Homo sapiens: one gene and its partners. The gene in region 3 interacts genetically with the main gene of each other region. Each region holds a gene or a part of one and is shown on either strand. Other genes may lie near its edges.

What was found.
Region 1: changes in PSMD12 (region 3) and CARS1 together harm fitness less than expected from each alone (positive genetic interaction), as found in Homo sapiens cells (one large-scale study listed by BioGRID).
Region 2: changes in PSMD12 (region 3) and EXOSC9 together harm fitness more than expected from each alone (negative genetic interaction), as found in Homo sapiens cells (one large-scale study listed by BioGRID).
Region 4: changes in PSMD12 (region 3) and RFC4 together harm fitness less than expected from each alone (positive genetic interaction), as found in Homo sapiens cells (one large-scale study listed by BioGRID).
Region 5: changes in PSMD12 (region 3) and EIF3H together harm fitness more than expected from each alone (negative genetic interaction), as found in Homo sapiens cells (one large-scale study listed by BioGRID).
Region 6: changes in PSMD12 (region 3) and CNOT1 together harm fitness less than expected from each alone (positive genetic interaction), as found in Homo sapiens cells (one large-scale study listed by BioGRID).
Region 7: changes in PSMD12 (region 3) and COPS5 together harm fitness less than expected from each alone (positive genetic interaction), as found in Homo sapiens cells (one large-scale study listed by BioGRID).

Annotation. Positions count from the first base shown.
Region 1 is NC_000011.10:3,029,924-3,033,423, reverse strand, and holds part of CARS1 (cysteine--tRNA ligase, cytoplasmic), read left to right. Parts: intron 1-1,847; exon of another isoform or gene 1,848-3,500. UniProt on the Homo sapiens protein: Catalyzes the ATP-dependent ligation of cysteine to tRNA(Cys).
Region 2 is NC_000004.12:121,799,845-121,804,122, reverse strand, and holds the start of EXOSC9 (exosome complex component RRP45), read right to left. Parts: upstream 2,801-4,278; 5' UTR 2,699-2,800; coding exon 2,633-2,698; intron 2,297-2,632; coding exon 2,202-2,296; intron 1,450-2,201; coding exon 1,330-1,449; intron 1,209-1,329; coding exon 1,106-1,208; intron 1-1,105. UniProt on the Homo sapiens protein: Non-catalytic component of the RNA exosome complex which has 3'->5' exoribonuclease activity and participates in a multitude of cellular RNA processing and degradation events.
Region 3 is NC_000017.11:67,349,578-67,353,077, forward strand, and holds part of PSMD12 (26S proteasome non-ATPase regulatory subunit 12), read right to left. Parts: intron 760-3,500; coding exon 652-759; intron 1-651. UniProt on the Homo sapiens protein: Component of the 26S proteasome, a multiprotein complex involved in the ATP-dependent degradation of ubiquitinated proteins.
Region 4 is NC_000003.12:186,792,983-186,796,482, reverse strand, and holds part of RFC4 (replication factor C subunit 4), read left to right. Parts: intron 1-1,705; coding exon 1,706-1,825; intron 1,826-3,500. UniProt on the Homo sapiens protein: Subunit of the replication factor C (RFC) complex which acts during elongation of primed DNA templates by DNA polymerases delta and epsilon, and is necessary for ATP-dependent loading of proliferating cell nuclear antigen (PCNA) onto primed DNA.
Region 5 is NC_000008.11:116,724,824-116,728,323, forward strand, and holds part of EIF3H (eukaryotic translation initiation factor 3 subunit H), read right to left. Parts: intron 1,350-3,500; coding exon 1,193-1,349; intron 1-1,192.
Region 6 is NC_000016.10:58,525,327-58,528,826, forward strand, and holds part of CNOT1 (CCR4-NOT transcription complex subunit 1), read right to left. Parts: intron 3,323-3,500; coding exon 3,149-3,322; intron 2,780-3,148; exon of another isoform or gene 2,597-2,779; intron 813-2,596; coding exon 663-812; intron 34-662; coding exon 1-33.
Region 7 is NC_000008.11:67,048,634-67,052,133, forward strand, and holds part of COPS5 (COP9 signalosome complex subunit 5), read right to left. Parts: intron 2,709-3,500; coding exon 2,597-2,708; intron 1-2,596. UniProt on the Homo sapiens protein: Probable protease subunit of the COP9 signalosome complex (CSN), a complex involved in various cellular and developmental processes.

The DNA of each region.
Region 1 (3,500 bases), on a different chromosome or scaffold from region 3:
TTTCATATTAACTTATTGTTATTCGCTTATAACTTAATTACCCAGTGGTTGGAGAGTATGGTCTGTCCCAATCTGGATCTGTGAACAGAGACTTGTGTTGTGGCCCCTGTGTGTGCTGGTTTCTGAATGTTCTCTTGTGCTTGAGAAGATTCCGTCTAATCCCCTAGTGCACAGTTCCACATGCCATCCACTTAGCTATACCTGTTGGCCGTGTGGTTAATATTTTGTGTGTCTTTGCTAATTCTTCCTGTTGGCTTAGCCTATTCATACAGTTTCTTAAAAAAACAAAAACAAGAACCAAAACAAAACTCCCCCTCTGATGATGAATTTGTCTGTTTCTCCTTATTTTTTCACTTTTTAGAAAAAAAAAAAGTTTTTTTTTAGAGGAGATTCTGGTTCACATCAGAATTGAGAGGCTATATATATCCCCTACCCACCTCACCGTCACCTCCCCCAGCATCCGCACCCACCAGGGGGTACGTTTCTTACAGTCAGCGAACCTGCTCTGAGCGTCATTACCCTGAGTCCGTGGTTTACTTTAGGGTTCACTCTCAGGATTGTTACATCCTATGGGTTTGGACAAATACTATCTCGTATCCACCATTACGGTATCACACAGAATAGTTTCACTGCCCTGAACATCCTCTGTGCTCCAGCTATTATCCCTTCCTCCCCACCCCAACTCCTGACAGCAGCTAGTCTTTCTACTGTCTCCGTAGTTTTGCCTTTCCCAGAATGTCACATACTTGGAATCCTACAGTGTTGCAGCCATTTCAGATCGGAAAAAATTTTTAAACAGAATACTTCACCTCTGATCACCAAAATGCATAGGGATTTCTTCCTCACCCAGCCCACCTCTGCCCCGACAACCAGTCAGTTCTCTAGCAGGCATCAGCTGGGAGTCCTAAAATTTAATTCATTTCCAACACAGTTTGCCAGGAGGAAGCGTCAGATCTGACAGGTTGAAGGGCTCAGTCCCATAAGACTGTCCCCAATTCAGATGCCAGTTGAAAGTAGTAGTTTGTTACCTATACTTCTGACCTACCAGTTATTGGCCGGGCGCGGTGGCTCACGCCTGAACTCCCAGCACTTTGGGAGGCCGAGATGGGCAGATCATGAGGTCAAGAGATTGAGACCATCCCGGCCAACATGGTGAAACCCCGTCTCTACTGACAATGCAAACATTAGCTGGGCGTGGCGTCACGTGACTGTAATCCCTTCTACTCGGGAGGCTGAGGCAGGAGAATTGCTTGAACCCGGGAGGCGGAGGTTGCAGTGAGCTGAGATTGCACTACTGCACTCCAGCCTGGTGACAGAGCTAGACTCCATCAAGGAAGGAAGGAAGGAAGGAAGGAAGGAAGGAGGGAGGGAGGGAGGGAGGGAGGGAGGGAGGGAGGGAGGGAGGGAGGGAGGGAGGGAGGGAGGGAAGGAAGGAAGGAGAAAGAAAAGAACAGAGTGCACTGGTATATTTTGGAATGCTTCCTTTCCCTTCTTGCTATTGGAAACACAAGGGGATTTTTCTCCAATATTCACTGTGAGGCCTGGTCAGGTTCCTAGAGGTAAAACTCACAAAAGTATGGGGTCCCCTATGACTGGGTCCCTGGGGTTTTCAACTGTCTGACTTGCCTACACCAAGCCTGCAGCAATCTCTGTTACAGTCCTGGTTTTCCTCCCCCAACACTGGTTCCCACAGAATTTTCAGCTTATGAGTCTCTGCTCTGGTAAGTTGTGATTGTCTGTCTTCTCCTGTTGGTCTCTCCAGTTTAGGGGGCAGTGGTTTGCCCTATGACCTAACTTCTCTTATGGATCTAAGAAGAGTTGGTTTTTCAGTTTATTCAGCTTTTTACCTGTTGTTAGGTAGAGTGGCAACTTCCAAGCTCCTGACTTATGTGAAACTGGAAAGCAGAAGTCTCTTATCATTTTGTATTTATGCATTTTGATTGTTGATCTGTATGCTTGACCAGCAACATTGAGTATTCCAGCCCTATCATCAGGCAAGTTTTAGAAACATTATCTTAGAAGTATTGGTGGGAAGCAGCTTTTGTCTATCTTGAAGTGTGTATATTTCCCTGTTTGTTCAAGGTGGTTGCCGTCTTCTGGCTTCCATTGTTGGCTGTTGTTGAAAACATCGGCTGCCCTTCAAATTACTTTTCTTTGATTGGTAAATATGTCTTTTCTATCAGGCGCATTATAAAAGTATTCTCTCTTTTCAGTTTTCTGCTATTTCACAAAGACATTGTAAGAGATTTGTTTTTACTTATCCTATTGGATATTTTGTGTGCTTCCCGGGGCTGGATTGTTGCATGGGTTTTGAGAAATTCTCAGATGTGTCTTCAAGTATCACCTTTACTCGATTCCCTCTCTCCTCTCCTCTGGGTTGCCAATTAGATGTGAGTCTCATCATTTCATCTCATCCTTCTCCGTGTCTCCTAACCTGTCTTTCATAAAATTTTCCTTCTTGTCTCTGTTTCATTTTGGATGACTTCTTCAGTTCTGTCTTCCTGTTCACAAATTCTCCTTCAGACAGGAAGTGAAACAGTCACTCAGTAGGATGGATAAGACTGTTTCGCCTGTTAATAGATTTCATCTCTGCAGGTTCCGTTTGCTTCTATTTTCAGATCCAGCTGGGCCGCTTTGCTGGCCTGTCCCTGCTTGCTATTGCCTGTCATCTGGGAGTCCGTCCTTATGTCTTTAAGCCTGTAATATTTACTGGATTTTATTATGTATCTGATAACTCCTCCATCTGAAGCGTCCATCTGTTTGTCGTTTCTGCTGACTCCCATTCACAGTTGCTCATGTTCTTGGGTGTTTGGTGACCTCGATTAGGATGTCGGTTCTTGCTGGGTCGTGACCTTGGTGATCCTGAGGGCCAGGATGCGCGTTTCCCTGTACTTGGGGCAGGCCCAGTGTTTGCTTTTCGGGCAGCAGACTTGGCAGCCTTTGCTCCCCAGAGCGCACACCCTGCTTTTGGTGCTTGTCTGCCCACTGGATGCCCTGCCGCGGTGGGGAGGGTGTGCTCATTCCTGCAGACGTGCCTTGCCACTTGCAGGCCTGCAATACATTTAACACATCTGTTTGATTCAGGAGCTGTAGGCAGGGATTGCATCAGGAACCTGGCCCACGTGGGCCCTGTGCCCCTTCTCTGTCTGTGTTGTGGCTTTGTCCACCCTGTGTCCTTGCTGTCTGCCAGGCCATTTTCCTACACTTTTTCTCTCCAGCCTTGGTTCTTTGCCTCCCCTTCCCATAGTAGGCCACAGACCATCTGCTTGGTGTCACGCCCTGTCCTGGGTCCACGTCAGTGCATTGAGACTCTAGGTCCCTCCAAGATGGCGGAGGGTAGACATTTCTCTTTTCTGACATGAGTGCAGTTGGGGCGTGTCTCATGCCTAGAGTGTGTGTGGTCAGGACCTGGTTCACATAGGTGCCATGTTTTGCTGGGATTGGTGGTTTTTACTCCCATTCCATGGTGTGTCAAGTGGGGATGGCATCTTCAGTCAATG
Region 2 (4,278 bases), on a different chromosome or scaffold from region 3:
AGGCTAAGGAGAGAGGATCTCTTGAGCCCAGGAGTTTAAGATTACAGTGAGCTATAATGACACCACTGTACTCCGGCCTGGACGAGAGTGTCACCCTGTCCCTCAGAGAAAATAATGAAAGTTTTCAAAAATTAAAAAAAATTAAACTTTTAGGTTTTGTGATATTTTTAATAACCTTACAAGTAATGCAAATAGGAAGTATTATGCTTAGGTATGGAATATGGGAAGCTAAATGACTTCTCTGGGATGAAAATGCTTGTCAAAATACCCTAATCAAGAATCAAATTCTGGCCAGGCACAGTAGCTCACGCCTGTAATCCCAGCACTTTGGGAGGCCAAGGCAGGTGAATCACTTGAGGTCTGGAGTTCAAGACTAGCCTGCTGGTGAAACCCCATCTCTACTAAAAATACAAAAATTAGCCGGGCGTGGTGGCAGGCGCCGGTAGTTCCAGCTGCTCGGAAAGCTGAGTGGGAGAATCGCTTGAACAGGGGAGGCAGAGGTTGCAGTGAGCTGAGATTGCACCACTGCACTCCAGCCTGGGCAACAGAGTGAGACTCTATCTCAAAAAAATAAAACAAAATAAAATAAAATAAAATTCTAATATCCTAATGCAGCACAATTTATTGGGACTAAGATTTTCAAAGTTATCCCTGCCACTGACATGGTGTGGCCCTGTGTAAATCGATAAACCTATCCAAATGAAGGATTTCATCTGTTCTTGAGTTCTGCATGAAAAAGGAAAACTACCTGCTTCTATGAACTCATGTAGAAAATGAGAGATTATATGAAAAAGCCACAAGTTCTTTGAATAAAATATTTTTACACAAAAATCTAAGTTGCTATTTTCACCCTTTTAAGATAAAGGGTGAAAACCTTTTAGAAACCTTTAAGAAAAAGGGTGTCCTCTGAAGGGACACCCTTTTTGTCCCTTCAGAGAGAGAGAGGTAGCACAAAGTTCTAAGGGTATCACTCAAGAACATCTGAAGTGAAGCAAACCAGTACAATACTGAGTTAACTAAAGTTCTGAGAATAAAAGGATAGATACCGGGATCCATGATCAACAGTATTCATCCTAAGATTAAGAATTATGGGCATATTCCCCACCTTTTCACCAGCAACAACACAGAGAGACTCAGTGTCTATACACTTCGAATTTCTTAGACATCTTTCCATGAGTCGATTCAACTTCACCAAGAGATCTGACTGCCTATAAGGAGAAAATAGGAATGGGCTAATGTCATGAAATATAACACCAGGTATTAAAACAAAAGCTCACTGCTGTTAGGTTCTCCTATGACTAAAGCAACTTAAGAAAAAGATTTAAATACCTGCCAGGTTCGAAAGCTGGAGCGGCCATCTGAGAGAGTTCAAGGTTAAAAAAAAGAATACCTTCTGTTGCCCGATTGAGTTTTGGAGACACAAGTTCACAGGAAACCTGTCCAAGAACTCTGCAAAGATAAAGTTACAAAGTATTAACCAAATAGACTCTCCTTCCAAAACAAAAAACTGAAACAGATAACAAGTTTCAATCTTAATGTGAGTAATATCATACTCAGCCAAATAAATCATAGGAGATAAAAATTATATGTAAAGTATAATATACACAGAAATAAAACATAAATTGGTACAACTAAAAACACGACAGAAAAAACACCTCTCTTCTTATTACAATGTTTACTATTCCACAGATTGTTTTAAAAATCAGTGACCTTTACCTCTAAAGCAAGTATTTATTGATACAAGATGGCATGAAAACCTGAGATTTCTTAAAGGTTTTCACATGGCATAGTTCACCACCATTATGTGACCAAATAGCCTCACAACTTTCAAATGAATATCTGAAAACCTAATTTTCATGTCACTCAGGAAAAAGAAAGCAGGATGTACACTTAATGACAAGATGCTCAAGATCTCTATATTAGTGTGAGAAACAAATTCCATATGATCACTACTAGTTGTCTATACGATTTATAGAAGTCAGAAAAGAACTATGTGATACGTGACAGAAAATACGTTTATGATTAAAAAGTTCAAGTGTGACCACAAAAGCAAAAAATCTCGCATAAAAAAATACTTATTTTTGTCAGCTAAACAAAGAATACTGTCCAGACTTCTTAGCTGCTTTATAAACAACCAAGTCAATAAGGTCTTTTTTCAAACTTCTCCCTTCCGAATGTGTATCTCATTTAAATCCTGTTACCTTGTTTTTCCAAGTTCCACAATGCAGCATCCGTAATCTGTTCCAAATGAGATCCTGATGTTCCTATAATCATAGGTTTGTCTGCCATCCAGCCGCTGTAAGCACAAATTCATTCATTAATTTATTCCTTCAACAAGTATTTCTTAAGCAACTACTTTTTGTCTGGCCCTGGGCTAAGCACTTGGGGGAAAGTGGAATCCTAACCAGCCCGCCCATACAGGAAAGTGGAAACTACAGCATGGACAACTGCTGCGGTGACTGGAGCCTTGAAAAGAACCTGTCGAAAAAAAATAAATAAAGCCTGAGGGATGGGGTGAACGTGCCGGTCGTTCCCCTAGTAGCTCCCCGGGCCCAGGCGGGCCAGGTATCAGTCCACACCTTGAGACCCGAGCGCCCACGCAGCGCGCAATTCTGCGGGCACCAAACCATACCTTCTTCTCTTCGATGGCACGGAGTAGGAAGCGGCGTTCGCAGTTTGAGAGTGGCGTTTCCTTCATGGTGTTGGGTCACCGGCCCCACAGGCACCAGAATCCGCGGGAAAAACGGAACCCGATCTTTCCTTGCGCGCCGCTGCTCGCCCCGAGGCGCAGGAAAATTACGTCATCAAGGCGCGGCGGCGGAAAAATGGGAAATGGCTTGGGCTGCAGCTACTGCGCAGACTCAAAGCGTGATTGGGGAAGGCCAGCGAGCTGCGAGAAGCCATTGCGGCTTTGGGAGGCCGTTTCTGAACGTGAAGTTCCGTTTCTTTTCTCATAAAGTGCAGAGGAGAAAAGGATACTTAAAATAACCATGAGAGTGATAGAAATTATTATCAGTAGACCGCTCGCACACTTCACCCTTTGCTCAGTCCTCTCACGGGGTGGAGACTAGACATGTACTTCTGCAATTTCACAGATGAGTTGACATTGGTCCCTGGAAAGCCGCAGATGCAGGATTTGGAGCAGATTAAATGAACAAACACTGGAATGAGGCGGCATAAGGGTTGGGGGAGAAAGATAAATTGGTGAAATGGGATGTTTTTGTGGCCAAAGGTGAAATCTTGTGGGATCTGAGAAGTTGATGAGAATGGAGAATGTTCGCACGTAGTAACTAACGATGTTACTACTACTGTGGACTGAAAGTAAATGCACCGTTTATTTCTTATCCCCTCTCCAGTTATTTTAAGTCGATAGACTTTTTTTTACGGTCACAGAGAAGCCTTAGCGGGGCCATGCTGCCAACCACTCAGCTTTTTTGGAGAGGCAGTATCAAATAGTAGTTTTAAAAAGTGTTCACTGCCAGGGTTCAAATTTTAAGGCTATCATTAACTACTATAACCCTGGGCAAGTTAACCTGTGTGCTTCACATTACTCACCGGCAAAAAAAAAACAAAAACAAAAACAAAGCAGGGGAAGTGAGAAACCTATTTATTCTGAGGAATAAAAATGAGTTAATATATACATAAAATGTTTAGAACAGTGCCTGGCATGGAATAAGCACTATTTAAGTGTTTGCATATTATTATTTTGTTTCCTTTTGCTTTAGAGGTGGTAGGCACTGTAACTCCTACGCAGTCTTTCTCTGGCTTCTTTGGTAGCTTCTCACAAGTTTTTTCTACCAGTGATACATTTTAGTCTCACTTTGTACCACTTGCAATCCATGTACTCAATAAATACTTGAAGAGGGCCTACTCTGTCCAAGAATAATTTAAGTGCTGGAGAAACAGGGTAGACAAGATCCTTTCAAGGAATTTATATTCTTTTTGGAAAAGGCAAAAAACCCTAAACAAATAGAACAATTTCATACAGTGTTAAGTGCTCTCTGAGAATAGGAATGCTATCTTAATAGGGGTAGTTGCAGGAACAGGTGACTTTGTAGCGGTGACATTAAAGTAAAGTAAATCTTTGGTGTTGAGCAGGAGCACCCTTGATGCCATCTGGAGAGGAAAAGTGTTTCAAGCAGAAAGAGTAACATATGCAAAAACTGAGATGAGATGAGCTCCACATGGTCTGGAGAGAGAAATTGTGAAGAAGGAGGAAAGTGGACAGAAATGATTAATTTTCAAAATCGGCAAGGGGATTACAGGGTACTAACCACT
Region 3 (3,500 bases):
ATTTGAAAAGTGTGTTATATGTAGTCCAATGTCTTCAATTAATACTCTAATTCTGACTTATCTTTAAATACAAGACTACCTTCTTTAAAAATATCTAATTTTGCTAGGTATTAAAGTTGTTAACATTTTTGTAGCTATAAGTAATGTTAGTAGATTTATAATTTCCAACAAATTAAACACCAAAAATATGACTACAGTATAACCTAAAGCACCTAGTGAATGAATTTTCATGCTTAGGCTTGCTTACCCTATTTTCAATAATATCAAACCAATTACAGCTTCCTACATCTATTATACATTTCTTACTTTGTTATCTTTGAATATTATTTCCTCTATGTCTAAAATGCTCTTCTCCCACACCCTGACCCTGTAGAATTTTTATTCATTTTTTTTAAAGTCACATTTAAATCCGTGATAAGATACCCAATTCCCAGAAAAATCTAGATATACCATGGCTGTCAGTATTTAAATAGATTCATTTGCAGAAAGGGATGTACAAAGACATTATTGGTTGAATTACAGTGATGACATTTTGTGTATTTCTTTAAAAAATAAACATAAAAATATACAAAATATCTACATACATTAAGTATCTCTGAATACAGAAAAAACAGTTCATATCATTTTGAGTTATGTCAACAGAAAATTTACCTTGCCTTCGGTAACCATTCGTAGAGTATCAATTAATCGAAGTTTGATAGGAAGGTCTGTGATTTCCTCAACATAAGTACAGCACTGTTGAACCATTTTGGCAACAGCCTAAAATATTAAAAACCATTCATAAGTAAAATACATTCCTCACAGAGCGAAAAAATGTATTTTATTGATCAAAGAGCAATGATCGAACTTGGTCTTCCCAAGTAACTCTAGACACCAAAATGTCATAAAGAACATCACATCGAAATCTCACTGATACCTAAAAAGTACCGAGTACCCCGTAACAAGTCAGTAAAGGTCAGGAAAACCTCAGATGCAGAGATGCAGCCAAGCAGGAAAACATGGAAGAAATGGCATCTGACTAGGGGAAGAGAAAGCAGAGGTCCACAGCGGCTTGAAGCCATGACCTGCAGACACTGTGACTGAGGAGGAAAAAGGCAGTGGCAGAGGCAAAAGGCGAAACGGTTCTACCACCCGGGTGGGAGGAAGAGCCACAGTCACCCAAATTCACCTCAATACCATGTGACACTGAGAGCCAGAGACCCTCATGCCTTCAGTTTCCTCACAGGTTATATCAAGGGGCTAGAATACACTCCCTTCAGCACTAACATTCTATGATCCAGGTCACAAATCAGCAAACATTTTCTGTAAATTTTTGCAAATGTTCATAAAGTAGTTATTTTAGACTTTGTGGGCCAGTCTCTGTGGCAACTATTCAACTCTGCCTCCTTAAAAACAAATGAGTGTGGCTGTGTCCCAATGACTTTATTTATAAAAATAGGAGGCGGGTGGGATTTGATTTGTGTCCCATCATTTGCCAATGTTTGATCTAGATTTTAAGCAATATATGATAATCACTAACAATCAGGACCATGGGTCAGGCGTGGTGGCTCACACCTGTAATCCCAGCACTCTGGGAGGCAGAGATGGGCGGGTCACAAGGTCAGGAGATCGAGACCAACCTGGCTAACATGGTGAAACCCCGTCTCTACTAAAAATACAAAAAAATTAACCAGGCGTGGTGGCGGATGCCTGTAGTTCCAGCTACTTGGAAGGCTGAGGCAGGAGAATGGTGTGAACCCGGGAGGCGGAGCTTGCAGTAAGCCAAGATCGCGCCACTGCACTTCAGCCTGGGAGACAGATCGAGACTTGTCTCAAAATAATAATAATAATAATAATAATAATAATAATAATAATTAGGACCATGAGTCATCAAGAAAATGTTAAATTACATTAAGTATATTTTGGTTAAGGCAGCAGAAAAGTGAATAGAATATCTTAGAAAGATTTCCACGAAAAACATTTAATGTTTAAGCAGCTCAGGCTAAATGTTTTTGTTGTGGAGGTGGTTTTATTTTATTTTAGATTCAGGGGGTACATGTGGAGGTTTGTTTCATGAATATATTGTATAGTGGTGAGGTATGGGCCTCTAGCGAACCTATCACCCAAACAGTGAACATTGCACCCAATAGGTAATTTTGGATACACAGGTAACCCTCACCTCCTTTCATCCTCCCTGCTTTTGGAGTCCTCAGCGTCTGTTATTTCCACCTTTTTTTTTTTTTAATTAAAAACATTTTTTTGGCTGGGTACGGTGGCTCATGCCCGTAATCCCAGACTTTGGGAGGCTGAGGCCGGCGGATCACGAGGTCAAGAGATCGAGACCATTCTGGCCAACATGGCAAAACCCAGTCTCTACTAAAAATACAAAAATTAGCCGGGTGTGGTGGTGCATGCCTGTAGTCCCAGCTACTCAGGAGTCTAAGACAGGAGAATTGCTTGAACCCAGTGAGCCAAGATCGCACCACTGCACTCCAGCCTGGCGACAAGAGCGAGAATCTCTCTCAAAAAAAAAAAAAAAAAAATTTTTTTTAAAGAGATGGGGCCTCATTTTGTCACCCAGGCTGGAGTGCACTGGCATGACCACAGCTCACTGCTACCTCAAATTCCTGGGCTCATGTGATCTTCCCACCTCAGCCTCTTGGGCAGCTGGGACTACAGGTATGTGCCACCACACTCAGCTAATATTTTTAAAGTTTTTTTGTAAAGACAGGGGTCTCACCATCTTCATGCCCATGTGCACCTACTGTTTAACTTCCATTTATCAATGAGAACAAGCAGTATTAAACTTTTAACTATCTGAAACACTGGCTATTTAGAGACCCAGGCATTCTGGAAAGCTATGGTTTTATTGTAAACTATAACTCTTTCAATAAGTTCAAGGCCCTAGGACATGTAGTGTCTCACAAAACATAGGATGCCTGTAAAGTTAATTATAATAATAATTTCTAGAAGAGCACACAACTTGATAATTCTAAAAGCTGTGCAAAAAATACATTAACAGAAATCAGATGGGGTTAAAAACAACAACTACAGTAGTCTCCACTTACGAAGGTTTTGCTTTCCAGTTTCAGTTAGCCATGGTCAACTGTGGTGTGAAAATATTAAATGGAAAACTCCATGTATAAACAATCTATAAGCTTTAAGCTGCACACCATTCTGAGTAGTGATGAAATCAAATGCAGTCCCTCAAATCACCCTTCGGTCCAGTGTCTCCACACTACCCACCCTAGTCACTCAGTAGCCATCTCAGTCTCATGTGATCCACTGTATCCAGGGCAGTGCTTGTGCTCAAGCAACCCTTATTATACTTCACAATGGCTTCAAAACCCAAGAGTGGTGATGCTGGCCATTTGTATATGCCAAAGCGAAGCCATAAAGTGCCTCCTTTAAATGAAAAGGTGAAAGTTCTCAACAAGGAAAAAGCATAGTGGATATATGGTTTTGTACTATCTGTGGTTTCTGGTCTCCAGAGAGGATTTTTGGACATATTCCTTATGGAC
Region 4 (3,500 bases), on a different chromosome or scaffold from region 3:
CCACTGAAATCACCAAATGTGTAAGGATTATTAGTTATGTCAAAATGTAAAAGACAAAGGGAGAAGCTGCTATGTGCCTAATATTTTATTTGACAGCAATTTTTTATTCTCAGTAAAATTATAGAAGAACTTTTTTGATTATTCCACAACTCAATCAGATAGAACCAATCTGAATCAGCCTTAACAGTTGTTTATTATTACTTAGAGTAGGTCAGTCCAGATTATACAACTTTTTCTATATCCTTTATGAAATAATGTTTGTCTTTAAAGAACTTACTTTAACAGTGAATTTCATATTTAATATTGTGGCTTTAAAATAGAAAATAGATGCATGTAAATGTTTATGTCCATAAACATGCTTAGGATACCATGCTGATTAGGAAAAATAGAGATGAAACTAAATCACAACTCTTGTTTTTTATTTAAATGTGTGTGTGTGTGTGTGTGTGTGTGTGTAAAAGACTAGAGGGAAGTTTCAAAAACAGTGCTTTGACAGTGTGCCCACTTTTTTCTTTTGATTTCTCAAATTTCTCTACAGTAAGCATATATTACTTTTAGTAATTTTTATTAAAACTCACTTTAAAAACCTGCTCATGTTTTAATCCATTAATTTTCCTTAATCCAGTAGGTTTCCTTATAGCAAACTACCCTGTGGAATTTATTTATTTATTTGTTTATTTATTTATTTTTGAGACAGTGTCTCGCTCTATTGCCCAGGCTGGAGTGCAGTGGTGCGATCTCGGCTCACTGCAACCTCCACATCCCGGGTTCAAGCAATCCTCCTGCCTCAGCCTCCTGAGTAGCTGGCACTACAGGTGCCTGTAACCACGCCCAGCTAATTTTTGTATTTTTAGTAGAGACAGGGTTTCACCACGTTGGTCAGGCTGGTCTCGAACTCCTGACCTCGTGATCCACCCGCCTCGGCCTCCCAAAGTGCTGGGATTACAGGCATGAGCCACCACATCCGGCCGGAAATAATTTAAAATGTGCTATATTATAACATTATTTAAAATTACAGTATTTAAAACTATCTAGATGTCTAACAATAGAAGAATGTGAAGTAAATGATGGTACAGTCATAGGATGGAATATCATATGACTATTAAAATGTTATTTACAGTGGTTTTGATAATATGCCAAGATACTTATTATAAATGCAAAGTGGAAAATCGATTTAAAATTTTATATGTGGGGCCAGGTGTGGTGCCTCACACCTGTAATCCCAACATTTTGGGAGGCCAAGGTGGAAGGATCACCTGAGACCAGCCTGGCCACATAATGAGTCCCTGCCTCTACAAAAAGTAAACAAAATTAGCCAGGTGTGATGGCATGTGCCTATAGTCCCAGCTAGTTGGGAAGCTAAGGTGGGAGGATCATTTGAGCCCAGGAGTTCAAGGCTGCAGTGAGCCATCATCATGCCACTGTTCTCCAGCCTGAGTGACAGAGCAAGACCTTGTCTCCAAAAAAATAAAAAGAAAAGAAATTGTATATGTTATGTAATGTCTACATTTTTTTAAATGCATGGAAAAAAGCCAAAATGTTAACTGCAGCACTCTGCTGAAGCGAGAATGCAAAAGTGATTGTGTGCCTTCTATCCATGTTGTTTACTAGGTGGATTTTAAACGTCTGCAAAGTGTGCAAATGTTAAAATGTGATTTAAGCCTACTTGTGCTCTATGTTTCATATTTGTTTCATTTTGAGATAGGCCTGAACTTTTCCGATTAAGAGTTCTTGAGTTAAATGCATCTGATGAACGTGGAATACAAGTAGTTCGAGAGAAAGTGAAAAATTTTGCTCAATTAACTGTGTCAGGAAGTCGCTCAGAGTAAGTAAATTTGCCCTCCCTCCTCCATAGCATGTATTATTTTAAATATGTATTTCTGCCATCGCTCCTCAGCCTTTTGGCTAAGATCAAGTGTATTTCTGCCAAATTGTCAACTTTTCATGTTAGAAGACTATCCTGCCTGAGGTAAACAGGGATTTAATCAACTACTTATGCTCCTTAGGTGGCAAAGGTCCAGGATTACATTGGTGGTACCTAGACATATGTGTAAATTTTACATGAGCACATTTCAAAATTTGTGAAAGTGAATGACTAATTTTTGATATGCACCTTAAATTGATGGTGCAGTCAGTCACAACCGCTATAGCACCTAATGTATTTTTATGTGAAATGAAGACTGGGAGGTGGACTAAAAGACTCTGAGATCCCTTCTACCATTAATACTTGAAATCTGTTTTCTTGGTATAATTTTCATACAATTATGTTAATGCCACTTTTGGTGGGAGAAAAACTTTAATGGCAGATTACCAAAAATCAATGTACAGAAGGTAATAACCCGCAACGTGGGAGAAAATATTTACAAATCATATACCTAAAAAGGTACTTATATCTAGAACATATGAAGAACTTTAAAAACTCAGTAATAAAAACAAATAACCCAATTAAAAAATGGGCAAAGGCCGGGCGCAGTGGTTCACACCTGTAATCCCAGCACTTTGGGAGGCCGAGGCAGGTGGATCACAAGGTCAGGAGATCGAGACCATCCTGGCGAACATGGTGAAACCCCATCTCTACTAAAAATACAAAAAATTAGCTGGGTGTGGTGGCGGGCGCCTGTAGTCCCAGCTACTCGGGAGGCTGAGGCAGGAGTATGGCGTGAACCCAGGAGGCAGAGCTTGCAGTGAGCCAAGATCGCACCACTGCACTCCAGCCTGGGCGACAGAGCAAGACTCTATCTCAAAAAAAAAAAAAAGGCAAAGGATCTGCATAGACATTTCGTGCATGTGTAATAAGCACATTAAAAGATGCTCATCAACATCATTATCCATTTGGGAAATGAAAATCAAAGCCACATTGAAATACCACGTAACTCCCACTAGGATGGCTATGATAAAAAATACAGAAAATAACTAGCATTGACAAGGATGTGGAGAAATGGTAAACCGCATACATTGCTGGTTGGAATGTAAAATGGTACAGCCTCTTGGAAGACATGTCTGCTCAAAAACATGTACACAAATGTTCACAGCAGCATTATTCTTAATAGCCAAAACATGGAAACAGCCCAAATGTCCAACCGATTAATGGATGAATAAATGTGGTGTATCTATTTGCCATAGTATTTGACAATACAAAGGAATGACGCAAACACATGCTACAATATGGATGAACCTTTAAAATATGTTAAGTGGAAGAAGTCAGCCACAAAAGACTGCATATTATATGTTCCATTCATATCATGTCCAGAATAGGCAAATCTATAGAGATGAAAGTAGACTAATGATTGCCTAGAGCTGGGAATGACTGGGGGAAGAAGAGTGACTCCTAATAGGTACAAAGTTTCTTTTAGGAGTGATAAAAATGTTCTAAAATTAGATTGTGGTAATGGTTGCACAACTTTGTGAACATACAGAAAAACACTGAATTGTACATTTTAAATGGGTGAATTGTATGGTACGTGTATCTTTCAACAAAGCTGTTAAAACCAATATACATA
Region 5 (3,500 bases), on a different chromosome or scaffold from region 3:
TGTGCAAGGTTGGAAATGTAAAATGGTGCAGCTGCTATTAAAAAAAACATACAGAAGTTCCTCAAAAAATTAAAAATAGAATTACCATGTAATACCACTTCTGGGTACATATCCAAAAGAAAATGGAAACAGGATTTTGAAGAGATATTTGCACACCCATGTTCACTGCAGCATTATTCACAATAGCCAACAGGTGGGAGCAACCTAAACTTCCATCGCCAGATGGCTGGATAAGGAAAATGTGGTATATACAGATGATGAATTATTATTCAGCCTTAAGAAAAAAGAAGAAAATCCTGTCATTGCTACAACATGGATGAACTTTTAGGACATTATGCTAAATAACATAAGTCACTCACAAAATAATAAATGCCACATGATTCCACTAACATGAGGTATCTGTAGTCAGACTCTTGGAAACACAAAGTAGAATGGTGGTTGCGGGGATGAAAGAGGTGGAAAAAGGGATTGTTCGATGGATACAGAGTTTGAGCTTTGCAAGATGAAATAGTTCTAGAAACCTACTGCACAATATGCATACACTTAACACTACTGTAATGTATACTTAAAATTTTTATGTGCTTTTTACAATAAAAAGTTACACAGAAAATGAAACCAGGGATTTCAAACAAGTGAGAAGTTATTTTCAACTTGATTTTTAAAAAATCTTCTAGATGCTGATTTTAGCCTTTGATGTGAGCTTTTAACTACTCTCAGCCTTTGCTAACAAAGGAACTACACCTATAGTACAAAAATAAAATTTCTGAAATGCTTGAGGAGTATCTTCTTTCTGAAGCAGAAAATTGAACTCCATCTCTTTCTAAACACTGACTTATTCAAAAGAGGATAGAAGGGAATGGATAACAGACACATAAGGATGATCTTTGTCCCTCAAAACTTTATTTAGCAAGCTGATTTCATGTTGACAAAGTCAACATCAGCACAGTTCCTATCCAATCTATGACAAATCAGAATCACAAATTCCAAATAAGTAAAGGCCAAACTAATGATGTCTATAGTATAAACCCTCATTTCCCAGAATTTATATAATTTTCCCAAAGTATCAGACATCAAGTGAAGTAGGCTAGCCTGACAGATTCCCAATTCACACATTATCAAAAGTTATGGTGAGACCTGTGTCAATATCCATTTGTATGCACTGCAAAGACACACTTGTGATGAACACCCTTACCTTCATCAAAGTCAGCATCATCCTCTGTGTGCTGAGGGAAAGGAAAGCAGTTGGTAATTTCAAGCCGATCTTCTACAACCAGACCCAAAAGCACTCCTTGAACAACTTCAGTTCCTTGTCCTTCTTCTTGATAATGTTTGATTATCTTTAATACCACCTAAAACATACACACACAGAAGGGAGCTTAACAACCATCCTAGTTTATTATTTCCTTTATTTCTAAGAAAAAACAAAAGAAACTGTACTAGGTTTGCAAAACCACAAATTAAATAAGAGGAATAAATAAATGTCTTACAAATCCTTTCCTTTACCCTTACATAAATAATAAAGCTCACATAATCTAAACGCAGATCTGAAACTCCAGGAGTTTGATTACATGTCAAAAACGTCCATCTACAGCAGTTATGCTCTTAAATCAAAGCTTCCCCATGGTCTGGCATCCAGGAGTTCCTTCAGCCAAATCAAAGAATACCCCCTCAACCTGAGGCTATTATTGAGAAAGTGATCCTGTTAATAGACACATAAATGACAAAACTATCAATAAGACACAGAGATAAAGGTCTCAATTATCGGGACACCTGAAAGCAGAGCCTTCTGATAAATTCTCATTTTGCCTTTCTCAACAGATCATCTCCATAGTCAGAGGATGCAACAACGGGAACACGTACCCACACATATCCAACAACAATCTGGTTGGTATAGTCTCCAGCATGATCTAGTTTTCCTCAACCAGAAGGATTCACTAAGCAACCTCTAATGGAATAACCAGGTCTTCTACTACTCTCTCCTTTAATATTCCCATAAAGATAAGAGGTAACACCGTGCACAGGTGGACAAGAAATTAAAGTCTGCAATAATCATAATCATTAATAATTCCTACAACATGGCGTTAATATATGTAAAGTGTTTTATAGTGCCTGGCACATATTAATAATAATAGCATTAATATTTAATATGAGCCCATGGCCTGAAGACCCAAAAGGCAACACATTCAAAATTGTAATGTAAAGTTCTCAGAGGAAAAATAATTCTAACAAGAAAATGACAATTTATTTGTACGTTATTAGTGTTTCATTTAAAACAAATATATTATTGTTAGAAACGAAGTAATGGGTGGGCCAGGCACACACAGGGTGAGCAGCTACTTCTGTGTGCAGCCTGAGCCCACAGGTCAGCTCAGCCACACGGATGGTGAAGAAACAGCCTAAGAGAGAATCAATGCGGTTGTCAGCTAAACCTGCTCCCGCCAAAGTGGAAACGAAGCTAAAAAAAGGCAGCAGGAAAGGATAAATCTTCAGACAAAAAAGTGCAAACAAAGGGAAAAAGGGAGCAAAGGGAAAACAGGCCAAAGTGGCTAACCAGGAAACTAAAGAAATTTACCTGCACAAAACGAAGAAACTAAAACTGAGAAGAGTCCAGCCTCTGATGACGCCAGAGATAAAGAAGCCAAGTTTGACTGATATCATAACACACTGTATCTTATCAGTGGTCCCTATTTCCCATCTTGTACAACCCAGAGGAATACTGTTACCAACTATTTTGTAAACACAGGTTTGTGTGAGATACTGAATTATGGGAGGGTTTGACTGTCCTGAGTGTCAGCTTAACATTCCATAGTTGGGGGGTTAGTTTTTATATCCTGTAATACAAAGCATACTAAATGGCAATATGGAGTTGCAGTCCTGCATTTAATGTCTTGAACATTTTAAATTACTTTCATTCCCACATTATTTTTTAGTAGAATTGTTTCCTAAAGAAAAACACTCTTTGATCATGGCTCTCCCTGTCATAATTCTGTGCACTGTAACATCTTTGGTCGTGGTAGTCCTGCTTTTCTAATGAACTTTGTTAATGTGCTGTGGAAGATTGAAAATTTGAGTATGTAGTCTATATGGTATTATACTGTGAATTGGTGAGATCTATGTAACAGCTTACTAACATGTGAAGATACTGGTACTTGATAGCCTCTTATGGAAAATTTGCTTCCCAATTTTAAGCTGGAAAGTCACTGAAATAACTTTTTAAAAATTACAACACATGGCTTTTTAGATTTTCAGTATATATGTTAAGAATTGTGTACAAATTGAAATGTCTGTGTACTGATCATCAACACGACCAATAAACCAATTATGAAAGAAAAAAAGAAACTAATGACCAGTTAATAACAGCACATTACATTTACTAAACATTGTATGACAGGCAATAATCTAATTATTTCACATGTATTACCCTATCATGTAATTCTCACAACCACCTTAGGAGAAAGGTACTGTTAATACTCATTTTATAGATAAGAAAACTGAGGCAG
Region 6 (3,500 bases), on a different chromosome or scaffold from region 3:
GAGGTTGTAGCGATTCCCAGGTTCATTGGATACCTTAAAATGAGCAAAACAGAACTCCTTATGCTTACTCCTGCAGAGGACCAATTCTAGCACCAGTATTTCTAAACCCTTCTTACACCTTCATGGAAAGGCCAAACATTTATTGTGATTCACTTGCTTGAATTTGTGAGGTTATTTAACAAACACACAGATGCTCCAAAGGTGGTTGTATCAATAAGAGAAATGTGATTTCCCTCAGGAAGCCGAAGCTCAAGGCACAGCTCTAAAGTAAAGTTTATAAAATCAAAATATGCACTGTGCCAATTAAAGATTTGGAGAGAAAGTTGTAGTTGCATGGCATATACAGACTGTAAATATATAACTTTCCAAAATATCCTATAGAGAAATGTAAATCAGCATCCAGGTATTCAGAAAAATCCTAGGAGTACCAACAGCTAATGACTGTCTGTGGTCTACTCTTCTAGTGCTGTCTTGTCCAAAGCTGTAGCAAAATATCACTGATTAAATGAACTAGTAAAATACGTAAATCCAGTTAATCAACCTCACCCAATTGATGGAAATGACAATAAAAGACTAACTCCCAAATGGACCACACACAGGACCATACATAGAAAGTGCTTTATATGGAAGACGTAGATGAGTTTTAAGCCAAACCAATTAACCTGTAGGTTGCTGCGCAGATCAGACAGGAAAGTGACTGGTGATCGAGTTTTAAGATAGGAATCCAAATCCTTTTTGAACTGAGGTGGCATTACTCCAGTGAAATTGGTGAGAATCCGGGGAGCAATGTTAATTTCACTCAACATGTCCACCTGCCACAGATAAAATGCAAGAATCACAAGCAGAATCATTTTTATTAGTAAATTACATCTATGCTTAAGTGGTGGGACTGTTTTTCTAAAACTATATACACTATAAATGCCTTGAAGAGCACAGCTGCCACATTTTATTAATCAGTCTTTCTTTCTTTAGAAGAATCTTGGTTCAAAATGATAAAAATTTCCCACTCTATAATGTATTTCCTTCCCAGAGGCAAGATACCTTTTGGGCAAAGGTCTAATTTGCACAACTAACTGATTTTTCTTGGACTTCGGTTTCAAAATAATAATCCGGAATAAGATTCCTCACTCACCAAGAGTCTTTGAAAAGAAGCCCCAGCAAGACCAGACATCACACTTACTCCTTAAAAAAAAAAAAAAAAAAAAAAAAAATTGAAGCCGGGCGCAGTGGCTCACGCCTGTAAACCCAGCACTTTGGGAGGCCGAGGTAGGCGGATCACCTGAGGTTGGGAGTTCAAGACCACCCTGACCAACATGGAGAAACCCCATCTCTACTAAAAATATAAAATTAGCTGGGTGTGGTGCCTGTAATCCCAGCTGCTCGGGAGTCTGAGGCAGGAGAATCGCCTGAACCCAGGAGGCAGAGGTTGCAGTGAGCCACAGCTCGCGCCATTGCGCTCCAGCCTGGGCAACAAGAACGAAACTCCGTCTCAAAAAAAAAAAAAAAAAAAAAAATGCATGTGTCAGAAAGAGTAGAGACTACATCTAAACTATAGCTGGGCACTTCTAGTGGTGTGCACCTCTAGTCACAGCTACTCTGGAGGCTGAGGCAGGAGGACGGCTTGAGCACAGGAGCCTGAGGCTGAAGTGCACTATGTTCACACCTGTGAATAGTCACTGCCCTTCAGCCTGGGCAAAACAACGAGACCCCTGTCTCTTAAACAAACTATAGTAGCCATGTCAGGGTGGTGAGATTTTAAGTGGTCCTCTCTCTCCTTTATTCCAACAACTTACAAAAAAATACAGTGGGTTCTCCATACCCTTAGGTTCCATATCTAATTAACCTCAAATCGAAAATATGGGGGGTGAAGGTAGAGGTAGATGATGGGGTCAATAAAAAATAATACAACAATAAAGGCCGGGTGCAGTGGCTCATGCCTGTAATCCCAGCATTTTGGGAGGCCAAGGCAGGCAGATCGTGAGGTCAGGAGTTTGAGACCAGCCTGGCCAACTAGTGAAACCCCGTCACTACTAAAAATACAAAAAAAAAAATTAGCCAGGCATGGTGGCGGGCACCTGTAGTACCAGCTACTTGGGAGGCTGAGGCAGGAGAATCACTGGACCCCAGGAGGCGGAAGTTGCAGTGAGCTGAGATTGCGCCACTGCACTCCAGCCTGGGTGACAGAGTGAGACTCTGTCTCAAAAATAAATAAATAAATACAAATAAATAATAATACAACAATAAAAAACACAAATTTTAAAAAGTTATTAATATAGTTTAAAATAGTTATTTCCATAATAGCATTACACTACATTAGGTATCATAAGCACTACAGATGTCATTTAAGGGGATATGCAAAGGTTATATGCCACTTTACATACAGGACTTAAGCATACTTAAAATTTGGTGTCCCAGTGGGTCCTAGAACCAATCCTCCAAGAATAGCAAGGGACCAAGGAACAACTGCACAAGTGCACAGACACAAAACTGTGAAATATGGAGACTATGGCAGGGCGTGGTGGCTCACACCTGTAATCCCAGCACTTTGGGAGGCCGAAGCAGGCAGATTACTTGAGGTGAGGAGCTCAAAACCAACCTGGCTGACATGGCGAAACCCCATCTCCACTAAACACATAATTAGCCAGGTGTGGTGGCGAGTGCCTGTAATCCCAGCTACTTGGGAGGCTGAGGCGGGAGAATAGCTTGAACCAGCGAAGGGGAGGTTGCAGTAAGCCGAGACTGCACCACTGCACTCCAGCCTGGGTCACAGAGTAAGACTCTGCCTCAAAAAAAGAAAAAGATTACAAAGGTCTGTTTGTTCTGCAATTCTTTGCCATGTGGGGCACACCCAGCAAATGACTGCCCCAACACCTAAGCTGTGGTTCTGTAAATAGAGCTAAATTTAATATCAAAATTAATATGAAAACTAGCAACTAGAAAAATGCTGTGAACCAATATTCACCAGCAACAGCAATAGCAACAATATCATACCTTCTATCAGGCTTAATAACATTATTTCCTTTAAAGAGTACCCTTAACTAATAGTGTGCGTGTTATGTTGGGTAGGAAAGTGCTGAACAGTCTACTTATCAGAGAAAGGACTGAAATATTAAGACATAAGTTTTCCTTTAACTAGTTGGAACCTTACCTTTAGATTAGGAGTGAATGGGTCGGGGAGCCTCATGTTTCTTGGAAAGGCACTCAGGATCAAATTTCTTAACTGGATACAATTAGGTGGGATCACATCACAGAACCCATAATGGTAATCACAAAGGAACTCTGGGAAATCATGCAAAAGAACCAGCAGCACTCTTAAAGTGCCCTATTTTTAAAAAACAAGAAAAATATTTCCACACTAAGGAAAATGGAGTAACATTTTCCTATTGTAACTTAAGCCCCCCACCCCCCTCAAAAGAATGAAGTATACTTTAGTAACATTTCTTAAAAAGTTTTAGGCTTTAATTAACATTATCACAGATGATTTATCAAATATTTCCATT
Region 7 (3,500 bases), on a different chromosome or scaffold from region 3:
AAACCTGGAGGGGTGGAGGTTGCAGTGAGCTGAGATTGCACCACTGCACTCCAGCCGGGGTGACAGAGTGAGACTCCATCTCAAAAAAAAAAAAAAAAAAAATTCCAGTAAATAATAGGCTTAAGTGAGGTCTTTTCCCATGAATATAATGCACCAAATTAAAAAAAATCATTAATTGAGGCTTTATTATATGCCAGACACTTTGCTAATTGCTTTATATAAAGTAGCCCATTTAATTTTCTCAGAGTACTTAATGATGTATGTAGCATATCAACATTTTACAACAAAGAAATGCTTAGTCACATTAAATAACTTTCTGAAAGTCATTCAGAACTAGTAAAGTGGCAGAGTTGTTTTCAAAGTCAGTTTTATTTTTTAGTATAGATATCATTTGTTTATTATAGAAGAGACATGGCAATTATTTACATAATTAAATATTTCAGAACTTAAGTGCAATGAGCAGCTTCATGTTGATGGCATTTCAATAGTGATTTACTTCAGTCTACATACTTTCTAAGAATGTCAGCATCTCTAAATAAGAAATAATCTGGCTGGGCATGGTGGCTCACGGCCTGTAATGGCACTTTGGGAGGCCAAGGCGGGCAGATTGCTCAAACCCAGGAGTTCAACGCCAGCTTGGGCAACGTGGCAAAACCCTGTCTCCACAAAAAGATACAAAAATTAGCCAGGTGTGGTGGCTCACCCTTGTAGTCCCAGCTACTTGGGAGGCTGAGGCAGAAGGATCGCTCAAGCCTGGGAAGTTGAGGCTGCAGTGAGCTGAGATCGTGCCACCACAATACCCTGGACAACAGAGACAGAGACCCTGTCTCGAAAAGAAAAAGAAAAAAAAAAAATCCTTGGCCTTCCAGGTCAACTGAATAAACCTGAAGAGTTGCAAAGTAGTTCTTTACTTTTGTGCCTCCATATTCTGGGAGAATAATTCTTTATCTCTAACTTTCACATTAACTGGTTGAATCCACCTTTTCCTTGAAAGCTCAATCCAACAACTACTGTTGCTTGCAATGCTTTACCTTGAGATTTTTCTGGAAGCGTAATGCCTCCTTTGGTTACAGTTTCAGCTGTACTCCTTTCAACCAATACTCCATCAAAGAGCATAAGAAACTTCTAAGTGCCGGTCCTGCTATGACTCCTGCTGCTGTAGCTCATATTCTCCAAACCCAGTTTATTTAATTCTAAATCCTGTGGTTCTAACCACTATATATACTGCAGTATATGAAATGGCCTACTTTTTTAGAAAAATAAAAAAATTGTTCCTAAGTTCTAAATATAGAGAAGTTTGTTAAATAATATCCTACCAAATATGTTAAGTTTTTATGATATTATCAGAAAAAATTCAGTGATACTCTCTTTTTTTTTTTTTTTTTGAGACGGAGTCTCACTCTTTCACCTAGGCTGGAGTGCAGTAGCGCGATCTCGGCTCACTGCAGGCTCTGCCCCCCGGGGCTCATGCCATTCTCCTGCCTCAGCCTCCCGCGCAGCTGGGACTACAGGCGCCCACCACCTCGCCCGGCTAATTTTTTGTATTTTTAGTAGAGACGGGGTTTCACCGTGTTAGCCAGGATGGTCTCGATCTCCTGACCTCATGATCCGCCCGCCTCGGCCTCCCAAAGTGCTGGGATTACAGGCGTAAGCCACCGCGCCCGGCCTCTTTTTTTTTCTCCTAGTATCTACTGCTTTAAAGTAATGCTCTTCTGATTCACTCTGGGAACCTCTCCTCCCCATTTTTAGTCCTTGAGCTCCTGAAGGAGTTTTCTACGCTGCGGCTCAGCAGTAAAGCACTTGCCGTGGCGCAAGCCGCTCATCAAGCTTATTCAGTTGGCCCACACCAGGCCTAAACATGGGCATGTGATTAAGTAAAGCCAGTCAGACACAATGAAGTTTTGCCCGGAAATATGTGAGTGTGAGTGTGTGTGTGTGTGTGTGTGTGTGTATCTTGACCTGGAAATATGTGAGTGTGAGAGTGTGTGTGTGTGTGTGTGTGTGTGTGTATCTTGACCTTCTTTTTGAACATGAAGCTGAGAGACTTGGAGGTCTAAAGCTAAAGCTGCCGTCTTGCTTTCACATGAAGCCTGAAACTAGCGTTAACTAAGATGAAATCAATGCTAAGAGAAAGAAAAAAAAAAAAAAGACCTCATAATATTGGTTGAATGCAAACTTAGCTGTGCCTGAGTTAAGCCCTATTCCTCAACTTTGCAACTTACACAATTCCCTTTCTTGTTTAAGCTCGTTTCATTAGGTATCCTGTTACTTGTAACCAGAGTCCAAGCTGAGACACTTGATACACAAAAATCAATATGTGTATTTTTTTAATCCATAAATCTCCTTATGGCAGGGGCAGATCTCACCCTGATCTGGACACTCTGTTTGCTACTTAGACTTGGTCTCTGTGGGTCATGACACAGATCCTGAATTGGCCTAGAATCCTAATCCAGCTGTGGTGGTGCAGAATCCCACCCTAGCCCTGGTGTCTTGGCCAAGTCAGGTATAGCCTTTCTGTGAAACAGTGTTTCAGATATTAAACGGCTATGAAGCTTAGATAAAATTCAAATGCATTCTTTACAAGTATAGTACTTACAGTAAGCAAGCTAGAAGAACTCAACGTATTCACCCAGTATTTATTCCACAACAGCTCAAGCAATTTGCGATCCAAAGAGGATTTGAAATATGAGACTTCTAAGGCATAATATCTATGAAATAAAAGCATAAAATTTAGTAAGTAAAAAAAAAAATTCAACTACGTCACATAAAACTTATGGCCAGATTTAAGTGAGTTACACTTTATTCTCAAATATTCACATTTTAGTCTTTATTCCAATAAGGCAATAGCTAACCATGGTTTCCTCACACTTCAAGGGTTGTGGATCCAAATCTCCTACTAAACTTCTTGTTTTATTCCTTTTTTTCTGTAGAGCCCAGAAATTCCCCAAATGTTATTAACAACCAGTCAAAACTTCTGAATGACAAGTTTATTCCTGTTACTGAGTTCATAAATTCAAGCCAACAGCACATAAACTTAATAAGCTGCCTCTCTAGGGTCAACTATAATTTTTGTTAGCCTCTTTAAAATAATAAAAATGACATGTGGATTCCATTCTTCCCTTCCTAATTCCCCAGTTAGGACCTACTGCTTTTTGAAAAGCAAATTTTAAGGTAGGTCCTTAAGGCATCTAAAATAATTGCTCCCACTTTCAAAGGTGCCTAATTTATCATCAGGGCATAGTAAGGAAAAATCTAGTTAAATGTCTGAAAAATACATATATTTTTAAGATGTAAACTTACATCTTAAACTTACACATGCTTCTGTGTATCAGTGGATATAAAAAAGCATGAGACATCTTTACCTTAAGGAACTCAACATTTATATGGGGGATGTGGTCTAAACCCACATCAAAATTAAATATAATGATATACATTGAATAACAATAAGTGATGCTACAGTGCTATATAAAATGAATCACCTACCAACTAAGGGTTAGAGA